Linked DNA regions of Homo sapiens: all the other regions are linked to region 2. A link means that fine-mapping ties the variant in region 2 to the plasma level of a protein whose gene starts in the linked region. Region 2 holds a variant in brackets. A gene starts in each other region. All regions are shown on their forward strands.

What was found. A credible set is the group of variants that fine-mapping cannot tell apart. PIP is the chance, under the fine-mapping model, that this variant and not a neighbour inherited with it causes the effect. The UK Biobank Pharma Proteomics Project read protein levels with antibody pairs (Olink). The fine-mapping took linkage between variants from a reference panel, not from the people measured, so its PIPs are less certain.
Region 1: OSM starts here. The variant in region 2 is the best candidate, but not a certain one, in a credible set for the plasma level of the OSM protein (UK Biobank, PIP 0.74).
Region 3: it holds the start of MMP9, and the variant in region 2 is the best candidate, but not a certain one, in a credible set for the plasma level of the MMP9 protein (UK Biobank, PIP 0.53).

The regions. Positions count from the first base shown.
Region 1 is chr22:30,266,397-30,274,794 of GRCh38, forward strand. OSM (oncostatin M) reads right to left here and starts at 455. Exons shown (of 3, transcript NM_020530.6): 1 at 370-455. The coding sequence starts at 403.
Region 2 is chr2:43,126,990-43,137,554 of GRCh38, forward strand. It overlaps LOC105374570 (a long non-coding RNA gene), which reads left to right and starts at 1,407. Exons shown (of 3, transcript XR_940018.3): 1 at 1,407-1,473; 2 at 2,641-3,000; 3 at 4,065-5,385. RefSeq lists enhancers at 4,125-4,184, 6,283-7,046, 6,830-6,879, 7,047-7,808, 7,320-7,389 and 1 more and a silencer at 4,675-4,724. The variant A/T (reference allele first, on the strand shown) is at 5,937.
Region 3 is chr20:46,007,502-46,011,538 of GRCh38, forward strand. It overlaps MMP9 (matrix metallopeptidase 9), which reads left to right and starts at 1,407. Exons shown (of 13, transcript NM_004994.3): 1 at 1,407-1,563; 2 at 2,365-2,597; 3 at 2,982-3,130; 4 at 3,421-3,549; 5 at 3,642-3,815. The coding sequence starts at 1,426.

The DNA of each region.
Region 1 (8,398 bases), not on the chromosome of region 2:
CTGGAGGCCCCACAACCCCTCCACACCTCACACCACTTCCCTGCCCAGCTTCTGAGCCTCCCTCTCCTGCCCAGCCTCTTTGCCCATCCTATTCTCTCACCCCCTGGTTCCCAGAGTTGCCTCTACATCTTGACATCACCTCCCCCTGGAAGCCTTCCAGGGATGCCCCTTCTCTACCTGTGGAGATGCCAGGTTCTCAGTGGACCACTCTCTCTGCCTGACCTCCTGGCTCTCTCCCCTTCTCAGCATCCTTCTGCCTGGCGCCTGGCCTCCCCAGTTCCCGGAGGGCAGAGGGTGCCTCTGCTCCCCACCGGCACCCGTGGGCAGACCCAGCAGGCGGGTTCTGGCGGGGAGGAAGGAAGTACTTACTGAGCAGCGTCCTCTGTGTGAGCAGTACCCCCATGCTGGGTGCCCGTGCTCCGGCCCGCGCCCGCTGGGGGTGACACCTCTCGGCTGGGAGCCCTGCAGGCTGGCAGCCACTTTATGCCCGCTGGGGCGATTGGCCAACACCTCATGAGGTGGGTGGGGATGGGGAGGGGGGAGGGCAGGCCTTCTGGGAACATGACCCCAAAAACCAAAATTTCCACGGGCGGCCAATGGGCGCAGGGCGCGGTGTATGCCCGCTCCTCCTCCTGTTTTCTTCGAATTCGTTCTTCGAGGTCAGCCCTACGCCCAAGGATGATGTAAAACCGCAGCCTCAGCCTTCCTAGGGTGAGTGGGGAGGAAAAGGGTCCATGCCATCTTCAGGGAACTGGGCCAGGGATGGGCAGGAGGGACTTCGAGCTGGGCCTCTGGAGGCCCCAGGCCAGTCTTGGCCCAGGAGCCATTGGCCTCACAGGACACGGTGGTTGGGGGCTGAGGGGAGCGAGACATCTTCCTTCTTGAGTGCCCTTCCTGCCCTCTCGCCGGGGCTGTTGGGACATCTGTGAGCGGAAACCACCGGGCTCTGGGCACAGAGCCAGACGCAGGCTGGCAGCCCCGAGATTGTGGTTCAGGCCCCAGGACCAGCATCCCCCAGCCCGGCTCCCGACGGTCTCCTTTCCCCCATCGTGCACCCTCTGCCAGGCCCACTCCCCAAAGCCAGGCCTTGTCTTTGTAGGCAGGCTCCACTGGGGAGAACTGGACACTTGGAGCAAGAGAAACAGGAGGCCAGGGTTCAAGCCTGCTGAGGTGCTGTGTGACCTGAGGCAAGTCACTTAACCTCTCTGGGCCTCAGAGACCCACAACTATAAAATGAGGAGGAGAAAAGCCTTTCCCAGCCCACCTCACAGGGTTGCTGCCAGCATGGACATAAAAGGAAAAGACCTCTGAAGGAAAAAGCAAAGATGAAGGTCTGATTCCAAGTATTAGCTGTCGAGGGGGCGGGATGGGGGAAGGAGGAGATGGGGAAGCTGTGAGCTCAGAGGGGAAGCCGGGGAGGGGGAGTTGCCGCCTTGACAGTTGGGGACCAGGTTTCACTTTCTCTGAAAGATAGCGATCTTAGGTTGGTCCTCTGCGAAAGGGCCCTGGGAACAGCGCCTCCCTAGTCAAACTGCTACTTTACTGTGGGGTAAACTGAGGCCTGGGTGAAGGCAGACAGGGAGGCCAAGAGGCTGGCCCAGGCCTATAGACCCTGCCTGGTCAGCACATCTCCCAGGCCCAGAGGAGGGTCCTTGGCCTGCACCCTAAGAAGCCCGGGTGGGAGGAGGCCCTCAGGAGTCTGGGGAGTCAGGGTGGGACTCCTGGAGGCTGCCAGGGAGGCCTGAGCTGCTCCAGCTGGAGGGAGCATGGGGTCTGGGGCGCCTGAGCAAGGAGAGCTGGGGCAGCCAGAAAGGAGGAGGTTGGATGCACCCCTGTCCATGCCTGCTCCCGATGCCCACTGTGGCCACCAAGGCAGTTGCCACCCATTCTCCCCATCACTCATTTATTCATTCGACAAACCTTTATTTGGCTCCATGCTGCACCAGCCACTCCCAGGTCTGAGGATCACGTAGTAGGCAAAAATAGGCGACCCCACGCCCAGGAGGCTGCTCTTCAGCCCCTACCCACTCCCCGGCACCCAGGCTGGGACTCACCACACCAGGCCTCATACCTCCCCCTCACCACCCCCAGGGGCCAGTTCTGGATTCTCATCCTGAGAATGTCGCTTCCGCTGAAGTCCTCATCTCTGTGCCCACCCCCACAATGCTGTTTCCTGGGGCCATGCCAAGAGGGGATCCTTCTCCATTTCACATCCCTGATCTCGTCTTTTTTTCTCTTTTTTTAAATGCAGGATCTTGCTCTGTCACCCAGGCTGGAGTGCAGTGGCGCCATTGTAGGTAGCTCACTGTGGCCTCCAGCTCCTAAGCTGAAGCAAGGCTCCCCGCCTTAGTCTCCTGAGTAGCTGAGACCACAGGCATGCATCACTATGCCCAGCTAATTTTTTTATTTTTTGTAGAGACGGGGTGTCACTATGTTGCCCAGGCTGATAACAAACTCCTGGGTTCAAATGATCCTCCTGCCTTGGCCTCCCAAAGTGCTGGGATTGCAAGCGTGAGCCACAGCACCCAGCCACCGATCTCATCCTGCAACAGCCAGGGGAGAGAAGCCGCTGGGCAGTGACACCTCAGCTCACTTCAGTGAGGAGCTCGAAGCTCTGGGAAGTTTAGGGGCTGGCTCAAGGAAGGAGCGCCAGATCTGAGCAGAGGGGTCTAGGCCATTTTCAGCTGTGGCTGACCGACCACCACGCTTGGTGAGAAACAGCCACATGCCTTTATCTTATTCTATCTATCCTGTGGTCCAGGGAGGCCGTGCTGTCTCCTCATGGCAGAGAGAGGAGGTTGCTTTGTCTGAGGTCACCTATGAATAGTTAAGAGGAGAGGGGCATTTGGCCAGGCATGGTGGCTCACGCCTGTAATCCCAGCACTTTGGGAGGCCGAGGCAGGAGGGTCATTTGAGCCCAGGACTTCGAGACTGTGTCTTTACAGAAAATGTAAAAATAAATTATCCAGACATCGTAGTGCATACCTGAAGTCCCAGCTACTAGGGAGGTTGAGGCAGGAGGATCGCTCGAGCCCCGAAGGTTGAGGCTGCAGTGAGCCATTATCATGCCACAGGACTCCAGCCTGGGTGACAGAGCAAGGCCCTGTTTAAAAAAAACAAAAAACAAAAAACCCACCAAGAAAAGAAGGCATTCAAACGAGGCCCAAAGACCATACTCTTTGCACATAGTTAATGAGGGTGTCAGGCACAGGGCCCAGGGCTCAGAGTCACTGAAGGTAAGGAGAGCAGGTAGATTACATTGCTAGGACTCCCATAACAAAGTACCACAGACTGGGGGGCTTACGTAACAGAGATTTATTTTCTCACAGTTCTAGAGGCTGAAGTCTGAAATCAAGGGCTGGTTCCCAAGGCCTCTCTCCTTGACTTGTAGATGACTGTCTCTCCCCGTATCTCCACATCATGTTCCTTCTGCTTGTCCGTGGCCTAATCGATTTTTTTTTTTTTTTGAGACAGAGTCTAGCTCCGTCACCCAGGCTGGAGTGCAGTGGCACGATCTCAGCTCACTACAACCTCTGCCACCTGGGTTCAAGCGCTTCTCCTGCCTTAGCCTCCTGAGTAGCTGGGATTACAGGCGTGTGCCACCACGCCAGGCTAATTTTTGTATTTTTAGTAGAGACAGGGTTTCGCCATGTTGTCCAGGCTGATCTCGAACTCCTAACCTCAGGTGATCCACCTGCCTCAGCCTCCCAAAGTGCTGGGATTACAGGAGCGAGCCACCGCGCTTGGCCTTATCTCTTCTTATGAGGACACCATTCACATTGGATTAGGGCCCACTCACATTTTACCTTAATTATTCCTTTTTTTTTTCTTTTTCGAGACAAAGTCTTGCTGTGTTGCCCAGGCTTAAGTGTACAGTGGTGCTTTCATAGCTCACTGCAGCCTTGAACTCCCGGCCTTAAGCGAGCCTCCTGCCTCAGCCTCCAGAGTAGCTGGGATTACAGGTATGTGCTACCACACCTGGCCAATTTTACCTTAATTACTTCTTTTTTTTTTTCTTTTCTTTTTTTTTTTTTTTTGAGATGGAATCTCACTCTGTCACCCACGCTGGAGTGCAGTGGCGCCAGCTTGGCTCACTGCAACCTCTGCCTCCCAGGTTCAAGCAATTCTCTGCCTCAGCCTCCCGAGTAGCTGGGACTACAAGTGCCCACCACCATGCCTGGCTAATTTTTGTATTTTTTTAGTAGAGACGGGGTTTCACCATGTAGGCCAGGCTGGTCTCGAACTCCTGGCCTCAAGTGATCTGCCTGCCATGGCCTCCCAAAGTGCTGGGATTACAGGCGTGAGCTACCGCACCCGGCCCTTAATTACTTCTTTAAAGGCTCAACTTCCAAATACAGTCACGTTCTGACACACGATGGTTAGGACTTCAACACATGAGTTCAGGGAAGACACCATTCAGTCCATGCAGCCTGCAAGAGGAAGGCATAGCTGGAGGGCACAGGGGCTGGGGCCACTGTCGGAGCATCCAGAGTGAAGTGATACACAGGAGGACAGGGAGTGGCTCGGAGGTGAGGAGGCCTGGCCGCTGACCATCCCAGCCAAGCGTGAGGAAAGATGCGTCAGCGTTTCTGGTGAGGTCAGCAATCAGTGACGTCCCTCTCACCAGCAGGAAAAGCTTGCAACATGGCCCAGCCAGTATAAATAGGCTCCCCGACCACAGGACCCGGGCTGTCCCCTCTTCCCGGGCCACGTCAGCCAGGCCCGCGTGATTTGGAGAGGAAGAGAGGACCAGCTTGGTTCCTCAGAACTGCTGCTTCCTCGCTTTCCGGCTTACCCTCTGCTGTGGGGCCCTACGCCTTTAAATGCAAGGATAGGACCTGAGATGGCCTGGCAGGGCCAGGTCGAAACTGGAGGCTGGGGAGAGGTGCTCTGGTGGGGGGAGAGAAGGTGGCCCCCAATCTGCTGGGTGGGAGGTGGAGACCAACCCAAGTTCCATCTCAATCTGCCTGTGAGCCCAGTGTCCCTGGACCAGTCATGTCCCCCTTCTGAGCCTCAGTTTCCTCTTTTTAAACTGCAATGACAACTGAACAACAATGAAAAAGACAAGCAATCCAATTTAAAAATGGGCAAAGGATTTTAATAGACATTTCTCCAAAAAAAAGAAGATATACAAATGGCCAAGAAGCACGTGAAAAGATGCTAAACACCAGGGAAATGCAAATCAAAACCACCATGAGAAGCCATTCCACATTCACTAGGGTGGCTATAATCAAAGGTAGACAATTACAAGTGCTAACGAGGAGATGGAGAGATGAGAACCCTGGGGCATTGCTGGTGGGAATCTACAATGAATGGTGCCACCAAATTGGAAAACAGTTTGGCAGTTCCGCAAATGGTTAAACACAGAGGCCAGAGGCAGTGGCTCACGCCTGTAATCCCAGCACTTTGGGAGGCTGAGGCCGGCAGATCACTTGAGGCCAGGAGTTTGAGACCAGCCTGGCCAACGTAGTGAAACTCCAACTCTACTAAAAGTACAAAAAATTACGCAGGCATGGTAGCACTCGCCGGTAGTCCCAGCTACTCGGGAGACTGAGGCAGGAGAATTGCTTGAACCTGGGAGGCGGAGGTTGCAGTGAGCCAAGATTGTGCCACTACCCTCCAGTCTGGGTGACAGAGTGAGACACTGTCTCAAAAAAAAAAAAAATAAATAGAGATATCATATAACCAACAATTCCACTCCTAGATATACACCCAAGAGAATTGAAAACATAGGCCAGGTGCAGTGGTCAGACCTGTAATCCCAGCACTTTGGGAGGCCAAGATGGGAGGATCACTTGAGCCCAGGAGTTCAAGACCAGCCTGGCCAAAAAAGTGAGACCCCATCTCTACAAAACATTTAAAAATTAGCTGAGCATGGTGGCTTGCACCTGTGTGGTCCCAGCTACTCAGGAAGCTGAGACCGAAAGATCACTTGAGCCTGCGAGGTCAAGGCTGCAGTGAGCCATATTCATACCACTGCACTCCAGCCTGAGTGACAGAGTGAGACTCTGTCTCTGGACAAAAAAAAAAAAGAGGCTGAGCACGGTGGTTCACACCTTTAATCCCAGCACTTTGGGAAGCCAAGGCAGGTGGATCACCTGAGGTCGGGAGTTCAAGACCAGCCTGGCCAACATGGTGAAACTCCATCTCTACTAAAGATACAAAAATTAGCTGGGCATGGTGGCGCACGCCTGTAATCCTAGCTACTCAGGAGACTGAGGCAGGAGAATCACTTGAATCTGGGAGGTGGAAGCTGCAGTGAGCTGAGATCGCGCCTTTGCTCTCTAGCCTGGCAACAAGAGCGAAACGCCAAAAAAAATAAGAAAGAGAGAAAGAGAGAGTGGGAGAGAGGGAGGAAGGAAGGAAACGTACATCCACACAAAAACTTGCAAATGTTCATAGGAGCAATTATTCGGCATAGCCAAAAAGTGGAAGCAACCCAAATGTCTGTCAATAGAAAATGGATAAACAAAATGTGTTCTATCCATACAAAGGAATATTAAGTCACAAAACGGAAGGAAGCATTGCCATGTGCCACAACATGCATGAACCTTGAAACCATGATGCTGCATGAAAGAAGCCAGACACAAAAGGCCACATGTTGTATGATTCTGCTATGGGAAATGTCGGGAATAGGCACATGGAGAGACACAGAGAATACACCAGTGGCTGCTGGGGGCTGGGGCATCCAGGGCTGGGGAGAGACTGCTAATGGGCACGAGGTTTCTTTGGAGGTGATGAAGATATTCTGGAATTACATAGTGGCGATGGTTGCACAACCATGTGAATATACCCAAAACCCCCAAATCATACACTTTAAAATGATACAATTGCTGGTAGGTGAGTTGTATCTGAATGTTTTAAAATGCAGTAGCAAATGCACCTTGTAGGACAGTCAGCAAAATGCAGTGAGGTGAGTACGTGAGCGCCTGGCACATTGGAGCAGGTGCTCGGTCACACTTACCCGCCAGCCGCCAGGGCAGACGAAGGCAGGCATTTGCTTATGTCACACGGTGGCTTTGAGGGAGATTGGGAAAGGCGGTGTTACATAAACCCCAGGGTGAACAAGGAGCCACCAAGCACCCTCCCCAGAAGGTCATCGAGGTCACATTGGGATGGGAGGGGGGATCCCTTGGCTTGCAACCTCCACGGAGTTCTTCTGGGACCTGGAGTGTCCACCCACAGGTGTAGGAGAAGGAACCCCGTTCTGTGCAGTAACCTCCAACTGTCTGCCTCATGGCAACCGAATCCAAAGATCCTCAGACAAGGCCCCACCACTGCCCACTCTCTGGCTGGCCTGGAAACCCCCGCTGCTGCTCTCTTTGAGTCCAGGATCCTGTCCTGAGATGAGGGGACATGTGAGATGACCACAGAATGCCCAGAACCCTACAGAGCCAGGCAGAGCCCCTTAGCGGCTCTAAGCACTAAAATACTATGCTAACTAAAAACTACCCTCAGCATCAAACAAAGATAAGGAAGTCTAGTCTGACTTTTCTCGTGATGACAACATACCATGCCTATTTTGAAACGTCAGAGTCTGGCCAAAAATGTTTGGGTGAATGGGGTACCAGTCATCATTATCGGGAATATTTCTGGAGCAACCTCTGCGTACTGGTCCCAGTCCTAAGCATTGAATCCTTGTAACCACTTTAGGAGGCAAGTATCATTATTTTGTCCTGCAGATGGTGAAGCTGAGGCCTGAGAGGCAGAGACCTGGGAGGGAGCAAAGGCACACTGGAGCCCAGGCACCCTCCTAGAGCCACCAGATCGACCCGCATGCCCAATGGGTTGTCCAGAACTGATGTTGCCAAGTGGCTTGAGGAAAGCAAAAACAACAGCTTGGGGAAGGAGCCAGGAGAGGGAGGAGGTTCCCTGTCACAGTGGGAGGCCAGCCAGGGCGCAGGACGGCACAGGCCTAGTTCAGAGAATGGCAGGTGTGGCTGGAAGTCTGACAGGGAGGAAGATGAGGAGTGAGGGGTGATGGCATCCCACTAGGCTTTGTTGCTTTTGCGGCCCCTAGGGAGGGGCTCATACCACACAGCCGGGTCGAGTCCTTCTGCTTAAACAGTCCCTGTCTTCCCATTGCCATTCTGATAAGGCCAAAGTCATTACCACAGCCACCAGGTCCTGCCCACCTCCCAGCCTCACTAGTACCTTTCTTTTGCCTGCCTTTCTCTGGCCTTCCTCAGTCCTTCCGGGAGCAGCTCTCACCTCAGGGCCTTTGCACATGCCGTTCCCACTTCCTGAGCACTCTACCTGTGACCTGCCACCTAGATATCAACGTCCAGTCCACGCTGCACCTTTTCAGGGAAGACCTCCCTGACCTTCCTCACCCCAGGCTGGTCCCAACCCGCCTCCTGGCACCCTCCCAGAGTACCACGTATCCCTCCACACCACG
Region 2 (10,565 bases):
AAAGTCCATGTGGGATGGGAGCGGGGTGGGGGCAGCCCTAATCAAGGGATGGCTGCTGGACTTGGAGCTGACCACTGGCTCCCTGGCAGGCCTTAGACCTTCCGCAGAAGGATTTCAGCAGGTTCCTCAGAGCAGAATGGTATGCTCCTTGACCTCGGGAGCTCCCTTCTCAGACAAAAGCCCCGGTTCCCCACGCCCCGTCTGGGCTCCCTGAGGCCTGGCTGCACGTCCCTCCTCCGATAGGGCTCCCTGAGGGCAGGGTCCGCTCCTTCCGCGTGGTCCCTGCGGGGAAACGCCGTGTGGGGCTGGGGCTGCCCACAGGGAGCTTCTGGGCCGGCTAGCCAGCAGGGGGCGCTGTGGACTCAGACACGCGGCTCTGGCCAAGGATGGGAGGCGGCTGGATGGATGGTGAGGTCTCCCTACAGCAACTCTTGTCATATCCCCCGCCCAGCCAGGCTCTCCTGCCTTGCACACAGCGAGGTCTCCACCTCCTCACAACTTCCCAGCCCAGCCCCATTGTTCTCCCTGTCCTCTGGCTGAGGAAGCAAGAGAAGCAATTATTATGCCCATTTTGCAGATGAGGAGACTAAGGTCATTCAGATGCCAAAAGAAAGGCAGAAGGGGCAGCAGCAGGGCAGAGTGGATAGCATCTGGACTTTGGAGCTAGAAGCCACTGGTGTACTGTGTGCCACCTCAGCGGCTCAGTCCCCGTGTGGTTGCAGCAACCCTTGGGGCCTTATTGAGCAAAGCACTGCAGTTGCAACCAGGGAGAGGAGTGCGGCAGCCCACACAGTCCCCGGCTGAGAACGAGTCTGACACTGGACCCTGCCGCCGGTGTGGACAGCACTGGGTCCTGGGGAGGAAGTGCTGCAGAGGGGAAGAGGCGGCCTCGCCCAAGCCCTCTGCTGGGTGGAGATCACAGACAGCCAGAAAGGGGGAAGAACAGGAGGACTGTGCTGGAGAGACCTGGTCCCTCTGCACTTTCTCCCAGGTCCTAGCAAGTCATCAAAACAGCGGGTGCCGCATGGACGCCCTGTGCTGCCCTTCACGGTGTGCCAGGCCCAACCACCCACCCTGGGAGGCAGGTTATGTTATCCTCCCATTTGACAGATGAGGAAAGGAAGACCGAGAGAGAGAAAGTCACTTGTCCGAGGTCCCCAGTGGGAAGTGGGTAAAACGGGATACCCACACCCAGGTCTGCCTGGTATGTAGCCACAACATAGGGTTGGTGGAGCTACAGTCTAGGTAGAGAGAAGAAGGCCCTGTCTGTGGCCAGGGTCGGGGCTGAGTCTGTAACTGGGAAGGCACCCCAGGGAGGAGCATGCTCAGCAGGAAGTGGACAGAGTAGGGGCATGGAGGAAGGAGCACCAGCCATGTGTCTCCAGTCAGGAAAGCCTCCTGGAGGAGGCAGTGAAGGGGGAAGAGGAGGAGAGGAGGGCCTTGCCAGCAGCCTGAGCACTGGTAATGAAGCAGGTAGGCCCAGCTGTTTCCAGATGCACATGGTCTGCACCCAGGAGGGTCAGAGCATGAAGCTGGAGGGGCAGGCAGGGAGACACTGAGAGGGGGGCACCATGGCATCAGAAAAGAGCCCCTGGCAGCTGTGCGAGGATGGCCTCGGAGTTCTGATTGGTTCCGCTGGCTGTTCTTAAGGAAAGAGATGAGGATCTAAATTACTATAGAAACTGAGGGGTGGAGAGGAATGAGGAAGAGGGGATGAAGCCTTAAGACACCAAAGCGTTAGAACTCACCAGATGAGAGGGCCAATAAGATGCCCTGGACAGAAGGAGTGGTCAGGGGTGGCTCAGCCTCTGGTGTGGATGATGGCTTACAGTGTGACTGTGAGCTAAGATGTAGCATTCAAGTGGAGGAATGTGCTGGTGAGAGAAAGACAAGTTTGGTTTGGGACAAATGAGTGTGAGGTATGTATGGGCTATGGAAGTGGACGGGAGCTTTGAGCTCAGAGTTAAAGAGGGATAAGGGGTCAGGACAGGAGTGGTAGTTCTTTGTGAGGCCGAGGCGGGAGGATCACCTGAGGGCTGGAGTTCAAGACTAGCCTGGCCAATATGGTGAAACCCCATCTCTAATAAAAATACAAAAATTAGCCAGGCACATTGGTGCACACCTGTAATCCCAGTTACTCAGCAGGCTGAGGCAGGAGAATCGCTTGAGCCCAGGAGGCAGAGGTTGCAGTGAGCCAAGATCATGCCACTGCACTCCAGCCTGGGTGACAGAGTGAGACTCCATCTCAAAGAAAAAAAAAAGAGGAATAAGGGCTCAAACTAGAGCTGAAGTCAGGCTGTACACTTCAACTGAGGGAAGCCATCAGGGTGGACTAGAATTTGAGCTTAGTCTGCAATCAAGTAGGGAAGTACAACAGAAAGAACACCCATTAACTCTGGTTAGGTTGTATTCTAGAACTTGGAGAAGGAGCCAAGGGTCTGAGCAGACCACAGGCCGAGTTCAGCAATGGTGCCAATCACTCTCAAGGCGTGCAGTTCCCTAGAAGCATTCATAAGAACTCAGCTCAGGACTTAAAGGGACCCTATCAGCTCTGAGGCCAGATGTTGTCAACTGACCTTAAATCATTGAGGTGGGATCTCTTCTCTGAAATGTTCCCTCTCCCCTTTCCCTTCTCTGCAGGGCCCCAGCCTCTTGGCTGGCCAGTGAACACTTCCAAGAACCTTCATACTTAATACCTCTATCACTCCTCCACTCAACAGGTGAGGAAACATCAGTCCAGTGAGAGTGGCATGTGTGGGGAGGAGCCCAGGCTTGCTCTGACCTCTCTCTGGGGCCCCCCACTCCAGAAGGTTGGAACAGCATTCTACAGCATTCCAGGATGTGGAGGGGGCAGCAGTGTTTGTGTGCAGAGTGGCGAGGCCGACCTCCGATGAGCTTCCCGTAGGAAGGGTGCAGTGGGGGGTGCTCACCCTGCCCAGGGATGCTATCTGCTCCAGGACTTGTTTATCAGCCCACGGGGTGATCGGCATGACATCAATGGTGAGGTTTTTTGGGTTTCGTGGTTTTGTTTTTTTCTTTTTCCTTCTAAGGAACAATTCGTTTTGGTCAAATAACTAGAGCAAAAGTGACTGGTGTTTAGACACCTCTTTCCCCAGCCTCTGGCAGTGCCATTGGAGGAACCGTCCCCTGAGGGTCATAGAGGAAGCTGTCTGGCAGCTCAGAGGGTTGCCTCTTGTCCCTGCCCAGCCCCACCGGCTTCCCCTGGCTGCCTCCCTCACATGCCAGGCTTGGGCAGCTTCCCATCACAGACCGAGGTCCAGCCAGAGAGGCCTGTGCTCAGCCCCTCCCTGGGGCCTCTCAGTCTCCCCTCTCTGCTGTCCCGCTCAAATGGTGGGGAGGGGGTAGAGTAGGACAATTCAGAGAGAGGAACTAATCCCCTCCCTCATCCCACTGGGATGCAGAGGAGGAGGCCAGGCTGAAAGGGAACCACACACATCTCCAGTCACTTCTGTCATTGCTATACTGACCCTACAGCACTTCCCATGTGCCACTGGGCCTGCAGGTCGGTATTGGCAAGGGTGAAGGTGAGGGGACGCAAAAGGGAATGCTAGGCTGTGGCGGGGAAGGGCTGGCCTGGGCTCCCAGGAGGTGAGGGGCTGAGTCCCAGGTCATGGTGGCCGGACACAGAGGCGGGTAGAAGGCCAGCAGGGCTGCCCCATCTGAGCCTGGGAGAGCCTGGGAACCCAAAGGCCCATCACAGAGGCTCGGAGGCAGCTGTGTCCACGCGAGACAGAACTTAGGCTGGACTTGGGGGTACAACCCCAGGATAAACTTGGACACATTGAAGGGCAAGCAGCTTGGCCTCTGTCCAACAGGAAACCCCCTCTGCACAAGGAGAGAGGGAATGAGCACAGAGTAGAGGTGCCATGTGTTTCCCAGGGCTTCACTGCAGACAGCATCTCCTGGGAGGTAAACTGAGGCCCCTGTGTGCAAAGCAAGAAACTAGGGCAAGCCCCTTGGGGCTAAAGGTCAAGGAACTGAAGGTTCCAATTTACCTGCCCTGGTAGTTTCTGGCAAGAGACCTCCACCGCCTTCCCTTCCAGGATATGCCAGGCTGCAGGCTACAGTGCCGAGAAGGAGAAGACGGAGGCGGTGGTGATGTCACCCAAGGAATTAAGTAAGCAGGGGAGCTGATAACATCGTCCAGCCAGGCTCACTGTGGGCAGGGTGACTCACTGAAGACGGCCTGCGATCGCCAGGTGATTGTTGTTGTGCCCAGCCTGTGGGGCTGGGGAGGAGGAAGGGGGGCAGGCCACAGAGCTGTGACAAGTTCCTCACCGAGGCCCCTGCTCAGGGGAGAGACCTCAGTACACAGTGTCCTCCACCTCTGAGCCCGGGGCTGGCTCAGGAAACAGCCCCCCTCTGCCTGTGCGATTATCTTTGTCCACAGTGTTTGGTGTGTGTTTGTGGGGTGTGTCAGGTGATTTTCCTGCCCGAAGCCTGCTGGGTGCTCCAGGTACTAGCGATTGCTCACAGCAGAGCAGTAGCCCCCTCCCTGGTTGGACAACTGTCTGTGGAGACAACACCGGATGGCAAACTGCTAACCGCAACCACGTGGCGTCCTTACAGAGGGAACAGCCTGTTCCTCCCGCTGAGGGCACCTGCAGACCTGCCCCATTCATGGCTCCCTTCTCCCTCAGTCCCTGCTGAGGGGATGGTCCCTTCCCACCCTTAAGGGCACCATGGACTGTTGTCCAAGTTGAGAACTGTCCAACTGCAGGGGGCACCATTCACTTGGCAGTCTTCGTGCCAGATGCTATGGCTGTCCACAGTGGCCCTGCCCCTTCCCTTTTGTAAATTACTTCTCAGTTCCCTCCTCCACCAGAATTATCACACCAAACTTTCCCCCATGTATGCTTGCTTCTTTATCACCTGACACTCTCATTCATTCATTCCACAAAAAAATTGTGGCGTTTGTGCAAGGTACTATTCTAGGCAAGGGAACAAGACAGACCCTCCTGGAGCTCATGGAGTTCATATTCTAGCATGGGGGAGAACCAATAAATAAATAATTGGATACATAAAACTGCAAGTGACAATAAGTGCTACAAAGAAAACTAAAGCCAGCCCAGGATAGAGGGTGATAGTGCCCTACTTCAGCTAGGACTGCCAGAAAGGCTTCTCTGTGGGGAGGTGGCCTCTGAGGGGAGACCTGGAGGCAGCAAAGGAGGAAGCCTTCCCGGCAGAGCCCCTCCCATTGGCACCCAATGCCAAAAGAAGTTTCTATAACCCGTCCTGGTTCTGCCAGGAGCCTGCGGCATGGCCTGGGGCGCTCAATTCCCAGTGCAGGGTGTCTATTTCTTCCCCCAACAAACAAGAGGCCTAGTCGCATAGTCTCTTCCAGCACAAATTCACCCACCTGTCGGCTTGAGGAACATGACAGGAATCTGGGTTGGAAGGCCAACTCAGCCACCCACAAGCTGTGTCATCTTGAGCAGGTTACTCAGCCTCTCTGAGCCAGTTTTCTTTCCTATAAAATGTCAGGGAATTGTGGAGGATTAAATGAGGTTGTGGAACTGAAACCACCTGGCACAGGTGCTATCTATGAAGTGAGTGCTTCATAGATATTTTCTGGGGCTGCGCCTAGGTGAGGTGGGGCGAGGTGGGGTGAGGTGGGGCGAGGTGGGGTGAGGTGGGGCGAGGTGGGGTGAGGTGGGGCGAGGTGGGGCCTGGGGGTGCGGTGAGGAGGCGGCTTCCACTGGAGGAGCCTGGAGAAGGCAATGCTGACCCCAAGACGCAAAGCTCTGGTGGCTGCCCAGGTCTGCAGTGGCAGGGCCCGGGGAGCTGGCCCAGGCTGGGACCCTACCTCTACCCACCCCGGGCCTGTGCACTTCCCACTGACAGCAGCCGGTGGGGCGGGCAGGGAGCTACAGTGGGGCCCCCAAGAACTGTCACTCCGCGGCCTAGCTTTCAAC[A/T]TCCTTTGGGGCCCAAGCCACTCAGTTCAACCTCTCTTCCTTCCTCCTTCACTCAGGCTGTTTTGAGTGAGGGCCAGCCACACTCAGACTCCAGCCATGGTGCTCCCTCTCAGCTCCAAGAGCCCAAGGCAAGGAGGTGGAAGGTTAATCAGAGTCCACCCTGGTCAACACAACTTCCCTAACACCTGATGTGAGTTTAGGCATTTAGACCCTGCCGGGAACCCAGAGGAACATGCAGGTGCTCAGCAGGTGCAGGGTGCGGGCAATAACACCAATAGCAGTAATAATAACTAGCCTTCTCGGCTGCCATGGGCCAGGTGCTTTTCATCTAAGACCTTGCTTGATGTTAATCCTGAGATGTGGGCATTTTTTATCCCCTTTCATACTTGAGGAAACTGAGGCTCCAGGAAGGAGGGGTTGTGGGGTGTCGGCGGCAGGGTTTGTGGGCCTACTTCCTGCAGGACAGGAACCTTGCAAGGCACAGGGGATCTGGAGAAGCAGAATTGGAAAGACTCGGGTGGGTGGACCAGCCTGAGGCTGGGGAAGGGCCTTGCAGGGGATTCCTGTCCCACAGATGCCTGCAGGCCCAGGTGTGAGGCCCCCAGCCCCACCACCCCAGCCCAGCCCACAGCTGCTGTGTCACAACCCCTAGAGCGGCTTGGGACTCTGAGTCTCCAACAAGCTCCCAGGTGACCTGGAAGCAGCTGGCTCAGTCTGGGAGGCCAGAGCTGGGCTGCAAAGCCCTGACAAAGCCATTTCTCAGGCCCTCCTGACTTTGAGGCAGGAAATGATCATCATGGCAGCTAATATTAATTGACACCTTACCTGCACAGTAGGTGCTGTGCTAAGCACTTTGCATATGTGAACCTACTTAACTCTCACAATAGTTCTGCGAGGAAGAGAACCTGGGCACAAAGAGGCTAAGTGACTTGCCAGTCATACAGTGCTGGCATTGAACCTGGACACCTGGCTCAAGGCCACACATCTGCCCGCAAAGCAGGATGCCTGGGGTAGGGAAGGCGGCAGGGCAGGGCCTCGAGCACTGGGTCTGAGTGCGGGGCTGGACCTGGTAGGCCCTGGGCAGCAGCAGGTTTCTGAGCAGGGGACCGGCATGCTCCCCAGGACTGGCCACATGGTGTGCGCGTGAGGGAGGCCTGGGCAGACAAGCTCAACACCACTAAGGGCTGAATGTGAAACCCTCCCGCAGGGATGTGGTTTTGACATGAGAAGGCAAAAGAAATAACGCTTCCCTCAAAGGAAAGAACTGACAAACAAAGCTGGGCGCCCATGTGTCGGGCACAAACACTAAAGGTGGAAGTTCAGACGCTAGGAAGGGCGCCCGCAGCCACTTCCTCTGCCGCCCCTCTTCCCCTGCAACAAGGCCTAGTATAGATAGGTGCACAGCTCCTGGGCCTGAGGTCTAAGGACAGCCAGCCTGGGGGACCACCTGTCTGTCCACATGTGTGTGCAAGAGGTCAGGGAGAAAGGGCCTCTGGGTGCTTGCTTGCAGGGAGTGCCTGTCCCCATCCCACCCTGCTCCTGCAGCCGAAAAGGACAGACGCCCTGACTCTAATCTGTACCTCTGGGGCCTCAAAACCACAGCCACGTCAGCCGCGCATGCATCTGGACTAGGTGGGAGGTGGGGCCACCTATGCAGGGTACGCAGGTGTGTGCCAACATGCGTGTGCAGGGCAGACATGCCCCCCCACCCCCGAGGGAGGAGGGCAAGTGGGGTGGAGGGGTCCAGAGATCCGGTGGCCGCCCGGCCCCGCTCCTTCCCCTGCCCCTGCCTCCCCTCTGAGGGGTAGCCATGGCTTTGAGGACCCCCCTTCTTCCCTCAAGCTTCTCTCTGCTCTCAGCTCCAGTGCCAGCGACAATCTAAATAAATGTCTATGGAGCACCTAAAATGGCCTGGCAAGTTCTGGGCACTTGGGAGACATCAGCGAGAAAAGTAAAGATTCCTGCCCTCGGCCGGGCGTGGTGGCTCACGCCTGTAATCCCAGAACATTGGGAGACCGAGGCGGGTGGATCACCTGAGGTCAGGAGTTCGAGACCAGCTTGGCCAACATGGTGAAACCCCGTCTCTACTAAAAATACAAAAATTAGCTGGGCGTCATGGCATCTGTCTGTAATCCCAGCTACTCAGGAGGCTGAGGCAGGAGAATTGCTTGAACCTGTGACGCAGAGGTTGCAGTGAGCCGAGATCGTGCCATTGCACTCCAGCCTGGGTGACAAAAGCGAAACTCCATCTCAAAAAAAAAAAAAAAAAAAAAAAAAGATTCCTGCCCTCTTGGGGCCCACATTTTGTTGGGGAGGCACAATAGACAGAATAAATACATTCCTTTCTTTCTGTCTTTTTTTTTTTTTTGAGATAGGGTATCCCTCTGTGACCCAGGCTAGAGTGCAGTGGCAGGATCACAGCTCACTGCAGCCTCAAACTCTTGGGCTCAAGTGAACCTCCTACCTCAACCTCCTGAGTAGCTGGGACCACCAAGCCCGGCTAATTTTCGTTTTCTTTTTTGTAGGGACGGGTCTTACTATGTTGCCCAGGCTGGCCTCAAGGGATCCTCCTGCCTCAGCTTCCCAAAGTGCTGGGATTACAGGTGTGAACCACTGCGCCCAGCCTTACATTCTATAATCCTCATGTAGGCAGTGGGTTCCATGGAAAGAAAGAGGAAGCAGATAGGGCTGGGAGATGAGGAGTGCTGGTGGGTGCGAGGGTGTGCACTCACTCGGGTCACCGTACTAAGCTGGGTGCTCCAGGGAGGCCCCATGAAGAGGCCAACATTTCAACAGGAGCTTGGGGAAGGAATAGCCAAGCAGAGTCTGGGCTAGAACATTTCAGACAGAGGAAACAGCTAGAACAAAAGGCCTGAGGCAGGAGCCTGGCCAGGACTGGGGGAAGGGCAGGCTGTTGGGGTGGGGACTAAACTGGCCCTACACCTCCAGGATTTCCAGTGCGGTCCATGTGAGGATGGCTCGGCTCATGGCTGAAATGATTCTCTAGTCTGTCGGGCAACTCAGGCTAACAGCAAAGGCCTGATTTCCAGTGGATTAAAGAGAAAGGACCCTGTAGTACCTACAGAAGAGGCCACAGGGTTCACAGAGGAACCAGTGCCCTGGGAGGAAGAGAAGGAGAGGGGTTTACATCAGAAGGAGCCCTGCTTTGGGGCCCAGTGTGGGGGCCCCTAGAGGGTGCAGGGGAGGGAGCAAAGGATGGGACCAGCTACCCTGAGGCCCGCAGGTCTCTCTAGAGGGCCAAGTCTCTGCGTTCCCAGGACCCCCACGAGCCCACCCTGGGAGCTCACTGACAGAGTGCAGTGTAGACTTCCATTCTACAGCTTGGACTCAGCTGCTACCCACAGGGAGGAAGGGAGCCTGGAACACAGCCACTTCTGCGCACCTGCGTCTGCCTGCTGGAGGCCACCAGGCCTGCTTACTAGACCCTACTGAGGCTGCTGCCCCTCCTTCTCCAAAGCACCATTAAACAACTCACGTGGGGGGCTGGGGGAGGTGACCCCAGGAGGTCTAGCCTGATGGTTGAACAGGGGCAGGGATGTGCGCCTGCATGTCCACTTTGCCCTGCAGCATGTGGGCAGCTGGCATTCTAGGAGGTAGATCCACTCGAAAGCAATCAAAGCCACGGAGTGTGTGATTCTGACAGAGGGGGTGGTGGGATGTCAGCGGTGGAGGGCTTCTTATGGCCTAGAAAAGTGAGGGGACTTCTTGCAGAAGTGGGCTTGACCTGGGCTTTTCAGGATGGGAGCAAATTTGAAGGAGGAGAGAGGATACCTCCATGTGCTCACACATTTGCACACACATTTACTCTCGTGCACACACCCAGTCCCTTAAGCCCCCCATCTATAGGTGCTCACAGCCAGCAGTATGCACACACACCTCACACACAGCCAAAGTAATGCACACAAACTCAGAAACACACACACTGGGGCATTCACACTCTTATGAGGCATGCCGATGCTACAACGGTCGCCCACATACACTCTGGGCACCAGAAACATACAGGCCCCTTAGAAATGGGCTTGGGAGAAGATGAAGATGTGTCTGCAATGCGTAAGAAGAGCAGAAGCTGACAGGTGGCAGTAGGGGGTGGAGATGGGGTGACAACAGATATGGAGACCCAGAGAAAGGCAAGACTTACAGACACACCCACGTGCAGACCACACATCCGTTACTGTCAGCTTCAGACAGACCCCGCAACCTTCCTGCCTTCAGAAAGACACTGCTTAGTAACTACGTGACACGATGCATGTCATCCAGCCTCGCCAAGGTTTGATGCTGTCTTCTATAACATGAGGATTTGATAACACCTGCTTGTCATGCCAAATTGATATCCTGTGATTTGACAGGAAAGTCCTGTCTAACTCCAAAGCACTGTTCAGAATTCAGTTACCTCTCCCACCTCCAGTGGGACGCCCCTGGCCAGGCCACCCTCCCACCAGTCTCCCTGCCTCTTCTTGCTCCCACTATAGTCTTTGGCCTACCCTGCAGCCACTGCTCTCCTCCTCCACGCCAGCCTCTGTGATTTCATCTTATTCATAGTAAAAGACAAATTCCTTTGTGGGGGCGGGTAGTGGGGATGCTTCCTGATCTGCCCTCCCTAGTTCCCTT
Region 3 (4,037 bases), not on the chromosome of region 2:
AGTTGTTAGCAGGTTTTTCCCAAATAGGGCTTTGAAGAAGGTGAATATAGACCCTGCCCGATGCCGGCTGGCTAGGAAGAAAGGAGTGAGGGAGGCTGCTGGTGTGGGAGGCTTGGGAGGGAGGCTTGGCATAAGTGTGATAATTGGGGCTGGAGATTTGGCTGCATGGAGCAGGGCTGGAGAACTGAAAGGGCTCCTATAGATTATTTTCCCCCATATCCTGCCCCAATTTGCAGTTGAAGAATCCTAAGCTGACAAAGGGGAAGGCATTTACTCCAGGTTACACTGCAGCTTAGAGCCCAATAACCTGGTTTGGTGATTCCAAGTTAGAATCATGGTCTTTTGGCAGGGTCTCGCTCTGTTGCCCAGGCTGGAGTGCAGTGACATAATCATGGCTCACTGTATCCTTGACCTTCTTTCTGGGCTCAAGCAATCCTCCCACCTCGGCCTCCCAAAGTGCTAAGATTACAGGAATGAGCCACCATACCTGGCCCTGAATCTTGGGTCTTGGCCTTAGTAATTAAAACCAATCACCACCATCCGTTGCGGACTTACAACCTACAGTGTTCTAAACATTTTATATGTTTGATCTCATTTAATCCTCACATCAATTTAGGGACAAAGAGCCCCCCACCCCCCGTTTTTTTTTTTACAGCTGAGGAAACACTTCAAAGTGGTAAGACATTTGCCCGAGGTCCTGAAGGAAGAGAGTAAAGCCATGTCTGCTGTTTTCTAGAGGCTGCTACTGTCCCCTTTACTGCCCTGAAGATTCAGCCTGCGGAAGACAGGGGGTTGCCCCAGTGGAATTCCCCAGCCTTGCCTAGCAGAGCCCATTCCTTCCGCCCCCAGATGAAGCAGGGAGAGGAAGCTGAGTCAAAGAAGGCTGTCAGGGAGGGAAAAAGAGGACAGAGCCTGGAGTGTGGGGAGGGGTTTGGGGAGGATATCTGACCTGGGAGGGGGTGTTGCAAAAGGCCAAGGATGGGCCAGGGGGATCATTAGTTTCAGAAAGAAGTCTCAGGGAGTCTTCCATCACTTTCCCTTGGCTGACCACTGGAGGCTTTCAGACCAAGGGATGGGGGATCCCTCCAGCTTCATCCCCCTCCCTCCCTTTCATACAGTTCCCACAAGCTCTGCAGTTTGCAAAACCCTACCCCTCCCCTGAGGGCCTGCGGTTTCCTGCGGGTCTGGGGTCTTGCCTGACTTGGCAGTGGAGACTGCGGGCAGTGGAGAGAGGAGGAGGTGGTGTAAGCCCTTTCTCATGCTGGTGCTGCCACACACACACACACACACACACACACACACACACACACACACACACCCTGACCCCTGAGTCAGCACTTGCCTGTCAAGGAGGGGTGGGGTCACAGGAGCGCCTCCTTAAAGCCCCCACAACAGCAGCTGCAGTCAGACACCTCTGCCCTCACCATGAGCCTCTGGCAGCCCCTGGTCCTGGTGCTCCTGGTGCTGGGCTGCTGCTTTGCTGCCCCCAGACAGCGCCAGTCCACCCTTGTGCTCTTCCCTGGAGACCTGAGAACCAATCTCACCGACAGGCAGCTGGCAGAGGTGGGCAAACACCTAGTCTAGAGTTGGGGAGGGCTGTCCGTGAGGGTGTTGAGTGTCCCAGAGAGGATGCAGGGCCTCAGAGGAGATGCTTTAGGGGTGTGTTGGTGGTGATGGGCGTATCTGAAGAACAGAGGTGTCCAGGGTTAGGCAGTGGGGGGTCTTGTGGAGGCTTTGAGCAGTGATGGCCAGAAATGGGCAATGGGGCTTTCCTAGGTGGGAAATGGGAAATGGTTTGGGGTGGGGGAGGCATTGGAGGGTTCTGGGGTAAGCATAGGCTGGGAGTGAACAGGGGCAAACCTTATGCAGCTGTGGGGTAGAAATGGGCTAGAGGCATCCAGGGGTGAGAAGGAGCTGAGGATGTCTAAGGAGGGGAGATCCCTGGGTGGTCAGAAAGCACTGGTGTCTGGAAAGCATTTAATGCTTTATTAAATGTTAGTCCCTGCTGGGCATGACGGCTCACACTTGTAATCCCAGCACTTTGGGAGGCTGAGGTGGTAGGATCGCTGAAGCTCAGGAGTTTGAGCCCAGCCTAGGCAACATAGTAAGATCCTGTCTCTACAAAAAAATTAAAGAAATAGCCAGGCACAGTGATGTGCACCTGTAGTTCCAGCTATGCAGAAGGCTGAGATGGGAGGATCGCTTGAGTCCAGGAGGTCCAGGCTGCAGTGGGCTGATACCGTCTCTCCGAAAAAGAAAAAGAAAAAAGACTCCCTCCATGAGTGTCTGGAGGGAGTCCTTTGGCCCCAGCTGGGCAGAGAAAGGGGTCAGAGATCTGGCATGTGTGTGTCCCTTCATCCACAGGAATACCTGTACCGCTATGGTTACACTCGGGTGGCAGAGATGCGTGGAGAGTCGAAATCTCTGGGGCCTGCGCTGCTGCTTCTCCAGAAGCAACTGTCCCTGCCCGAGACCGGTGAGCTGGATAGCGCCACGCTGAAGGCCATGCGAACCCCACGGTGCGGGGTCCCAGACCTGGGCAGATTCCAAACCTTTGAGGGCGACCTCAAGTGGCACCACCACAACATCACCTATTGGTGAGCCGGGGCCGTGGGGGCAGCGGGGTGGGGCGGGGAGGCCAGGTCTGGCTCTTGGGCCAGCGGTGAACATGTCCTGTCTTGGACGCGTCCCTGGGTTTCACTATTTAATGTGTGGCCCCTGGGGAGTGTCCCCACCTCTGAGCCTCTGTTTCTCCTTCAGGGAAATGGCTCTTGCAATCCAAGTCCTCCTGCCAGGGCCATTGTGAGGGTCTAAGTAGACAAAAAAAAAAAAAAAAAAAACAGTCTGGAAGCAATTTATAGATGAGAGCGTGGACGGCAGAGAGCATTGTGTATGTTGAAGTCTCTGCGATATGGGGTGTCCCTGCTGCCCCGCTCCAGCCTTTCACTTCTGACCTCCTTCCTCTGGCTCTTACGCTACAGGATCCAAAACTACTCGGAAGACTTGCCGCGGGCGGTGATTGACGACGCCTTTGCCCGCGCCTTCGCACTGTGGAGCGCGGTGACGCCGCTCACCTTCACTCGCGTGTACAGCCGGGACGCAGACATCGTCATCCAGTTTGGTGTCGCGGGTGAGAACGTGAGGAGGGAAAATCCAAGAGACCTGGGCGGGGTCAGGGAAGGGAGGACCACGGAGAGCGTGGAGGCAGCAGTGGCCCCGGCTTCCTCTTGCCTGCCCGCGCTGCCCTGGCTTATACGGCCCCTCCTGCCAGACAGTGCACAGGGCCAGGGCGCCAGGCTGGGAGAGCTTCGCGCAGGCGGGATTTCAGCCCGCACTTATTTCGGAGCCCTTGCCTTGGGCAGCGCACAATCTGCGCAGCAGTACTCGGCTAACCCTCTTCCTCTCGACCTGTTTCTTCAGAGCACGGAGACGGGTATCCCTTCGACGGGAAGGACGGGCTCCTGGCACACGCCTTTCCTCCTGGCCCCGGCATTCAGGGAGACGCCCATTTCGACGATGACGAGTTGTGGTCCCTGGGCAAGGGCGTCGGTGAGATTCTGAGTCCTCCTGGCCCCTGATTCCCTTCATTCTCTCCCACTCATCACCCGCCGCCCTAACTCCGGTCCCCCCTCCTCCTGCAGTGGTTCCAACTCGGTTTGGAAACGCAGATGGCGCGGCCTGCCACTTCCCCTTCATCTTCGAGGGCCGCTCCTACTCTGCCTGCACCACCGACGGTCGCTCCGACGGCTTGCCCTGGTGCAGTACCACGGCCAACTACGACACCGACGACCGGTTTGGCTTCTGCCCCAGCGAGAGTGAGTGAGGGGGCTCGCCGAGGGCTGGGGGCGCCCACCACCCTTGATGGTCCTGGGTTCTAATTCCAGCTCTGCCACTAGTGCTGTGTGGCCTGCAATTCACCCTCCCGCACTCTGGGCCCAATTTTCTCATCTGAGAAATGATGAGAGATGGGATGAACTGCAGACCATCCATGGGTCAAAGAACAGGACACACTTGGGGGTTATAATGTGCTGTCTCCG